Linked DNA regions of Homo sapiens. The protein of the gene in region 1 purifies or fractionates together with the protein of each later gene. This does not show direct contact. Each region holds a gene or a part of one and is shown on either strand. Other genes may lie near its edges.

Evidence for each region. The genes of interacting proteins can lie anywhere in the genome.
Region 2: the proteins of RANGAP1 (region 1) and SUPT5H fractionate together in Homo sapiens (co-fractionation; one large-scale study listed by BioGRID). This does not show direct contact.

Annotation. Positions count from the first base shown.
Region 1 is NC_000022.11:41,258,556-41,262,204, reverse strand, and holds part of RANGAP1 (ran GTPase-activating protein 1), read left to right. Parts: intron 1-624; coding exon 625-759; intron 760-3,649. UniProt on the Homo sapiens protein: GTPase activator for RAN. Converts cytoplasmic GTP-bound RAN to GDP-bound RAN, which is essential for RAN-mediated nuclear import and export. Mediates dissociation of cargo from nuclear export complexes containing XPO1, RAN and RANBP2 after nuclear export.
Region 2 is NC_000019.10:39,469,494-39,473,142, reverse strand, and holds part of SUPT5H (transcription elongation factor SPT5), read right to left. Parts: intron 3,025-3,649; coding exon 2,869-3,024; intron 2,767-2,868; coding exon 2,620-2,766; intron 1,787-2,619; coding exon 1,640-1,786; intron 1,539-1,639; coding exon 1,413-1,538; intron 735-1,412; coding exon 650-734; intron 334-649; coding exon 214-333; intron 132-213; coding exon 29-131; intron 1-28. UniProt on the Homo sapiens protein: Component of the DRB sensitivity-inducing factor complex (DSIF complex), which regulates mRNA processing and transcription elongation by RNA polymerase II.

The sequences.
Region 1 (3,649 bases):
AAGCTGGGTGTTAGGTTTTTACCACCAGCAGGCAAGCTCCTGCTGTGCCTGGCCAGCTTTTAGGCACAGGCAGGTGTCAGACAGGTTCGTCTGGACCGTGGACTTGGCAGCTGGCTCCCTTGGACATTGTGGAACGTGGAAGAGAAGCTGGAAGATTTGGGCTTTGGTCCAGAGTCCACCACTTGTTTATTGACCATAAGAAAGTTTCCGTTCCTCTTACCCTGAGTTTCTTCAGCTGGAAAATGGGAGCCATGATTTTCCCACCTAGCAGAGGGCCTTAGACAGTGAAGTGAGCTGACTAGGAAGTCCTTCCCCTGGACCTGGCTAAAAGTTCATCCACTCCATGTGGTCTCTCCCTTTCCTGAGTAGGGCTTGGTCTCCCCGTCTCGAAAGTGAAGCTAAACCTCTCAGGCTGGTGTGACACAGCATTAGAGATAAAAACCTTGTGTAACTGAAGTGCTGGACATATTTAAGGTGTGACTGTTGAGCTGTTAGCAGTCCTGCGTCCCCTGACCTGCACCGATGGGTGGCGTGGGATGTTGAAGAGCAGTTCAGCAGCAGTGGCCACCCCGCTGGGAGAAGGGGCTCCTGCCCATGACCAGGGCCCCTTGCCTTTCCCCACAGATCCTGGCTGCAGCTCTGACCGAATGTCACCGGAAATCCAGTGCCCAAGGCAAGCCTCTGGCCCTGAAGGTCTTTGTGGCTGGCAGAAACCGTCTGGAGAATGATGGCGCCACTGCCTTGGCAGAAGCTTTTAGGGTGAGTGGTTTCTGTCCATCCTGCCCCTGCAGCCTTGAGGTGCACTCGGCATAGTAGGCTGACAGTTCTGGATGCTAATCCCAGGGCTGGCACTCAACCAAGAGACCTGGGGCGTCACGTGCCCTCTCCAAGCCTGTTAACCCATCCGAAAATGAGCCAGAATTCCTGTCGTGCATTTCTGGAAAGGTGTGTGACTTTCCGGAAAGGTGTGTGACTGGCTCCCACTGGTGAGCCAGCCCCTATGGGGCTTCAGGCCAGGCAGGCCACTCTGACCAAGGAGTGTCATCTGCCAGGCTCAGAAGTGGTGAAGTGAGATGGTGCGAGTGCTGACAGTAGCCTGGCCCAGCCACTGGTGTGGGGCACAGAGAAGGAACATACCAGACCTCCAAGACAGGGAGATAGGCAGGGGCAGCCGCAGGGCTCAGGTGCCAAATGACGTGCTCTCAGGTGACCTTATCCCCACTCCTCTTCCACTCTCCTCTCCCCATCCCCGCAGGACATTGCTGAGTCCCCGATCGTGAGTGCCAGCAGAAGGCTACACTTGCCCCTAACAGGACTGAAAACTTTGGGGTCTGTCTCCCTCCTCTCTTTCCTGTTTTTTTTGAGGCAGAGTCTCATTCTGTCACCCATGCTGGAGTGCAGTGCGTGATCTTGGCTCACTGCAGTCTCCGCCTCCCAGGTTCAAGCAGTTCTGCCTCAGCCTCCCGAGTAGCTGGAATTACGGGCACCCGCCACCACACCCGGCTAATTTTTGTATTTTTATTAGAGACGGGGTTTTACCATGTTGGCCAGGTGGTCTCGAACTCCTGACCTCAAGTGATCTGCCCGCCTGGGCCTCCCAAAGTGCTGGGATTACAGGCGTGAGCCACCACGTCCGGCCCCTCTTCTCTTAATTTAAATGTTTTCTTCAGCAAACAGTATCCTAGGAGCATTGCTCATACGGGCCGGAATGTCCTGGCTGCCCATCGAGGCTGTCTGTAGATACCCTTTGCCTGCTTCAGTGCCAAGTGAACATCGCAGAGATCTGCCTTGTGTCTCCCTGCACCCCTGGCTGCAGGGGAGCTCCTGCTGCCTCCTCTGGAGCTGGTGGGGGCCTCACTGCCATCCTTGGATCCCTCCCTGCCGTCAGCCTGCTGTCCTCAGTGCACTGGGAGGAGGGGGTGCGCTGTGGTTGTGTTGAGCCTTCATAGGTGTCCTCTGGTGGGCTTAGAATGGGGGTTCTTAATCCCCCCCAGTATGTGGATAGAATTCAGGGGTCTGTGAACATGGATGAGGAAAAAATAACATTATTATTTATTACTAATGTAGCTAAAATATGTAGTGTGACCTTTGATTATAAATGTAGACAATAAACCTCACAGCATTAGAAAGGCCTGTGACTACCCACATAACAAACAAGCACATGTAGTCCCTGAACCCAAAAAAAAAAAAAATTTTATTGAGGCAGGGTCTCGCTCTGTTGCCCAGGCTGGAGTACAACGGTGCAATCTCAGCCCACTGCAGTTGAAGCTTCCCAGGCTCAAGTGATCCTCCCACCTCAGCCTCCCGATTAGCTGGGACTACAGGTGTGCACCACCATGCCCACCCAGTTAATTTTTGTATTTTAGTAGAGATGGGGTTTCACCATGTTAGCCAGGCTGGTCTCAAACTCCTGACCTCAGGTAATCCACTCGCCTTGGCCTCCTAAAGTGCTGGGATTATAGGCATAAGCCACTGCGCCCAGCTTAAAATTTTTAAAAAAATAAAAAGAAAATCTTGTGACTTTATCCCCAGTGGAAATCACAGGTATTTCATATGAAGTTATAGTTACTGCTGATATATAGAAATATTTCTCACTACATCAAAATTACAGTAATAGTGGACCCACCCCTAGATCTTGTTATTTGGTGCATTAACAAGAAGTTTGTATATCACTACAGCATGCGTTTGGAGTTTTTTCCTAAATGTTTTGATAACTGTTCCAACTGAGTTGATTTCCTTTGTAATTCTGTGTAATTTATCTTAAAATTTTAAAAAAACATTTTTTGAGGAGGGGACCCAGGGGCTTCACCAGACTGCCTGAAGGGTTCATGGCACAGAAAATACTAAGAAGGCCTGACCTGGAGTGTGCCCAGGTTGGCCTTCCTGTATTTATTTGTGGACCACCCGCTCCCCCCATTGCCCTGTGCTGCACTGAGCACCTGAAGACAGCAGAAGATTCCTTGGCACAGTTAAGCCAGGCCAACCCTCAGTCCTGGGTCACAGTGGAGACTGGGACATGGCCCTCTCCTCCAAAGCTCAGGGGCCGATGGGATGCAGACGGAATATAGGCTTTGAATGTAGGCAGGATGAGGACCACCGTGATAGAGGAGGGACCAGGTGCTCCGGGAGCACAGAGGAACGCACACTGGATCGTGGCTGGGGGAATCCAGGAAGCCTTCCTGGGAGAGGAGGTGACCAAAACAAGAGCCCTAGAACTCATATGAGTTAGCCTGTCAAGAAAATGCTGAATGGCTGGGTGTGGTATCTCACGTCTGTAATCCCAGCACTTTGAGAGGCCGAGGAAGCTGGATCGCCTGAGGTCAGGAGTTCAAGACCAGCCTGGCCAACATGGTGAAACCTCCATCTCTACTAAAAATACAAAATTAGTCGGGTGTGGTGGCGCACGCCTGTAATCTCAGCTACTCAGGAGGCTGAGGCAGGAGAATCACTTGAACCTGGGAGGCAGAGGTTGCGATGAGCCAAGATCATGCCATCACACTCCAGCCTGGGCGACGGAACGAGACTCCGTCTCAAAAAAGGAAAAAAAAAGAAAAAAGAAAAAGAAAATAAGGAGGCAGAGAGAATGGGTATCAAAAGGCCAGGCTGTGATAGGGCTGCATGGGCCAGGGAACACCCTCCTCATCCCTAG
Region 2 (3,649 bases), on another chromosome or scaffold:
CCTGGCCCTCCCCAGGCCCCGCCCGTACACCGTGGTGAGCCGCTGACGGTCCACAGAGATGGTCTGGCAGGTGGAGTGCAGCTCCACACGGGCCGTGGACTCTGTGGCATCTTTCACCACACCGATGTAGCCTGCAGGGGGACAGGAGGTCAGGCTGGGCAGGCTCTCCTTCACCATGCCCCTCCCCAGGCCTCCACAGGCCTCGCAGGTCACCTTTGTAGGGCCCCTGGGAGATGCGCACGGTCTGGCCGATGAGTTCGTTGTCCCTCCGGCCCCGGCCCCTGCTCATGCCACCACTGCCGCCACCTGGGCTACCAAAGCCGCCACGCTGACCTGGGGATTGGGGAGAATGTCACTGGTCCCCCACGGCTGTGCCCACAGCAAGGGCACCATCAGAACGTCCCCTTCACTTGCTTGACTCCTCCCTACTTGGGTTAAGAGCCTCCTCTGCCCACCCCTGCCCCATGGCTTTCCTATGGAAGCCCTGACCATTCTGGGCTGTCACTGTGGCGTCTACCCTCCTGTGGGTGGTGAACCCCTAATAGCAGTGCCCAGCCCAGCACAGGCACTCAGTGAGTGTAGGCTGAACAACCAAGTTCCTTCCAGCCCCTTCTACCCACCACATCCCCTGACCCTGAACCCCTCTCACCTCCAGCACTGGGGTGCATGGGGCTGCTGATCCGGGGACTCATAGGCGCAAAGCCACCCACGGTGAAGTTGGTCACATCACGGGGCTAGGATAGAAGCAAGGAGTGAACTGGCAGGCAGGGGATGGGGGAACCACAAACCACAGGAACTCATCATCCCACGTGCAGGGCCCTGAGGAGACCACCCAGCCACCCACACCCCAGGCCTGAATTCCTCTGTGACAGCTGGTCCTGCACACTTTCCTACAAGCCCCACCTCAGGGCCTTTGCACTTGCTGTTCCCCCAAAATGCTCACTCTCCATCCCTTCATTCAGGTCTCTGCTCCAATACTGCCTCCCACTGAGGCCTTTTTTACCCTCCTCTGTCTAAAACAGCAGCCCTGGTCACTCCCTGTCTCCTGAGCCCATTCTGTTTTCTTCACAGCGCTTGCTATCACCTCAAGCTGTACGATGGGTTTATCTGTCTGTCCACCTCTAGAGTATCAGCTCTGTGAGAGCAGAGTATTTTTGTCTTGTTCACCACTGGTTCTCCAGTGTCTGGCACCTAACAGGTGCTCAGTAAAATGAAATGAATAAATAACTTAAAATAACTTGGTGAACAGCTCAGAATCCCAAATAAACCTTCTCACTCTTTGCCAAGGACCTGACAATGACACTGCTCTCCTAATCCCTCACAAGCCCAATCTTATCACTTCTGGGGCCAGAGGAGGCTTGGAGAGCTGAGCCAGGTACCCAACGCACAGGGTCCTGCCATGCCCACCTCACCTTTGAGCCCCCAGCCAGCACCAGGTGGCGGGTCTTGCAGACAAACATGCCCCCGTTCTCCACCAGTTTCTTGCAATGTAGGAAGGCGAAGCTTCGGAAGAGATGGCGAATCTCCCCTTCTCGGCCCTAGCCGGGGAGAGAAGGGTCACTCTCTTGACCATGTCCCCCTCACCCCCAACCAACCAAATTCTTTCAGATGCAGCTCAAAAGCAGGAACTTGTACTCACTGAGTGGGGGCCATCAATGACCTTAACGATGTCTTTCACATGGATGTTGTTCTGCTCTGAGTCCAAGGCCACAGCAAAGCGGTTGTCCTTCTTCCGGGTCACAGCCTGATGTCTGACAGTCACCACCTTCCCGTACATGTTCAGCACCTACAGAGGGAGAGCAGGGAGGCTGTGGGGGTGAGAATGGGAAGGGGAGACACGGGGCAGGGGTTCCCTAAAGTGGGATAATCCTTCCTTGTGGGAGACAGTCCCAAGCTCCACAAGGCATCTCAATTCCCTGGCTGCGGGGCAGGCAGGCAGAGTGCCACCCTTTAGGTACTGGGTCAACCAAAAATGTTCCCAGTCATTCTAAAACACCCTTTGGAAGGAGACTCCACCCCCGATTGGGCAACAGGGACCTGAGAGATGGAAGAAGGGGCTGATAGCAACATTGTTCATCCATCATTCTGTGTCAGGCCCCGTAAGATTTCACTGAAGCCTCAAAACTTCCTCTGAGGTGGATTCTGTCATGATTTCCATCTTACAGAGGGAAACTCAGGCTCAGAGAGGGTGAGTCACTAGCCCAGGGTCAGACAGCACAGGAGCAACAAAGCCAAGATGTGGATGTGGAGTCCAGGATCCTAAGTACTGTGCTCCATGACTCCCACATCCATGAGGAAGGAGCAAAGGCAGGAGGGCACATGTGGCACTCCATCCTTGAGCGAGCAACAGCCACCAGGGTACAGATCTAACCTCAGGGAATCATTCACTATGAACAAAGTAGACGCTGCTCTCGTTTCCATTTTATAGGGTGTGAAAACAGGCAAGGGGAGGGATCAATGACTTGCCATGTGCCCACTATCAGCCATTCAGATGTAAGTGACAGAGCCAGATCTGCAACCCAGAGCAGTCTGGGGGCTCTGCCACCTCCCAGGATGAGGGGTTGAGGGACAGGAAGCCTCCTAAAAGCAAGTCCCCGCCACAGAGCACAACACACACACCTGGAAGGTCTCCCGTTCTAGTCGCACGATGACACCCACAGTCTGGGGATCCAGCTGCACCAGCTCGCCCCATTCATGCTGGCCCCCAACATCCACACCTGATGCTGTCTCTGAGCAGAGCTGCAGGTCCCGGGGGAGCACCTTCAGCTGCCAGGGATGGTGAAAGGGGTGAGGCCCAGTCCAGGTGGCTCGCCTACCTGGGTCTCCTCTTGGCACGTGCACCCTTCCCCGACCCTTCTATCCACCTACCTCATGCATGGTGAGGTCAGAGAACAGGATAACGAAATTCTCCTCCACCCGCACAATGAGGCCTGTGTCGCCCTCGAATCGGCCAGCAATCACCTTCACGTGGTCCCCCATCTTGAAGTATTTTCTAAGTTCCTGGGCTGGGAACTCCAACATGTCCTGGGGGATTGGGTGTGGGGACAACAAACAGGTGAAGGGAGACCACCACAACCTGCCTGCCCCTCCTGTCTTCAGAATCTACGCATGTTCTCAAAAACCCCACTTCAGGCTCTTACCACCCACCCCAGACTACCTTAGTCCACCTGGACGACCCCTCAGACTGCCCCAGAAACAGCTGACCCCAGACACAGGACACCAACCTGGACAACCTTTACCCCAGCCCGCCCTCAAGACACACGATGCCTACCTATACCCACACAGAGAGCCTGCCCCTCAGACACAGGACCCCCGACTGGACAGCTCCTCAGCCCCACCCGGAGACAGCCTCACCCCACACATCACACTGGGCCTGCACAACCCCTCAGACATACACCAGACACAGACAAACACACACCCCGCTCTAAGCAAACAAAGTCAAGCCTCAGATTACTCCTTGGTTAATCACACTCTCAACCCAGTACTACCCAGATATCTTGCTTTTCAGAAACAAAAGATAGACCAAGTCACTCTCCAGAGACAGACACCACCAGGCAGGCCTGCTGCCCACCGACCCTGAGCTGCACTCAGACAGAGCCTCTCAGGCACCTGAGAATGCTAGAAGGGCCTCAACTTACCCTCCTGGAAA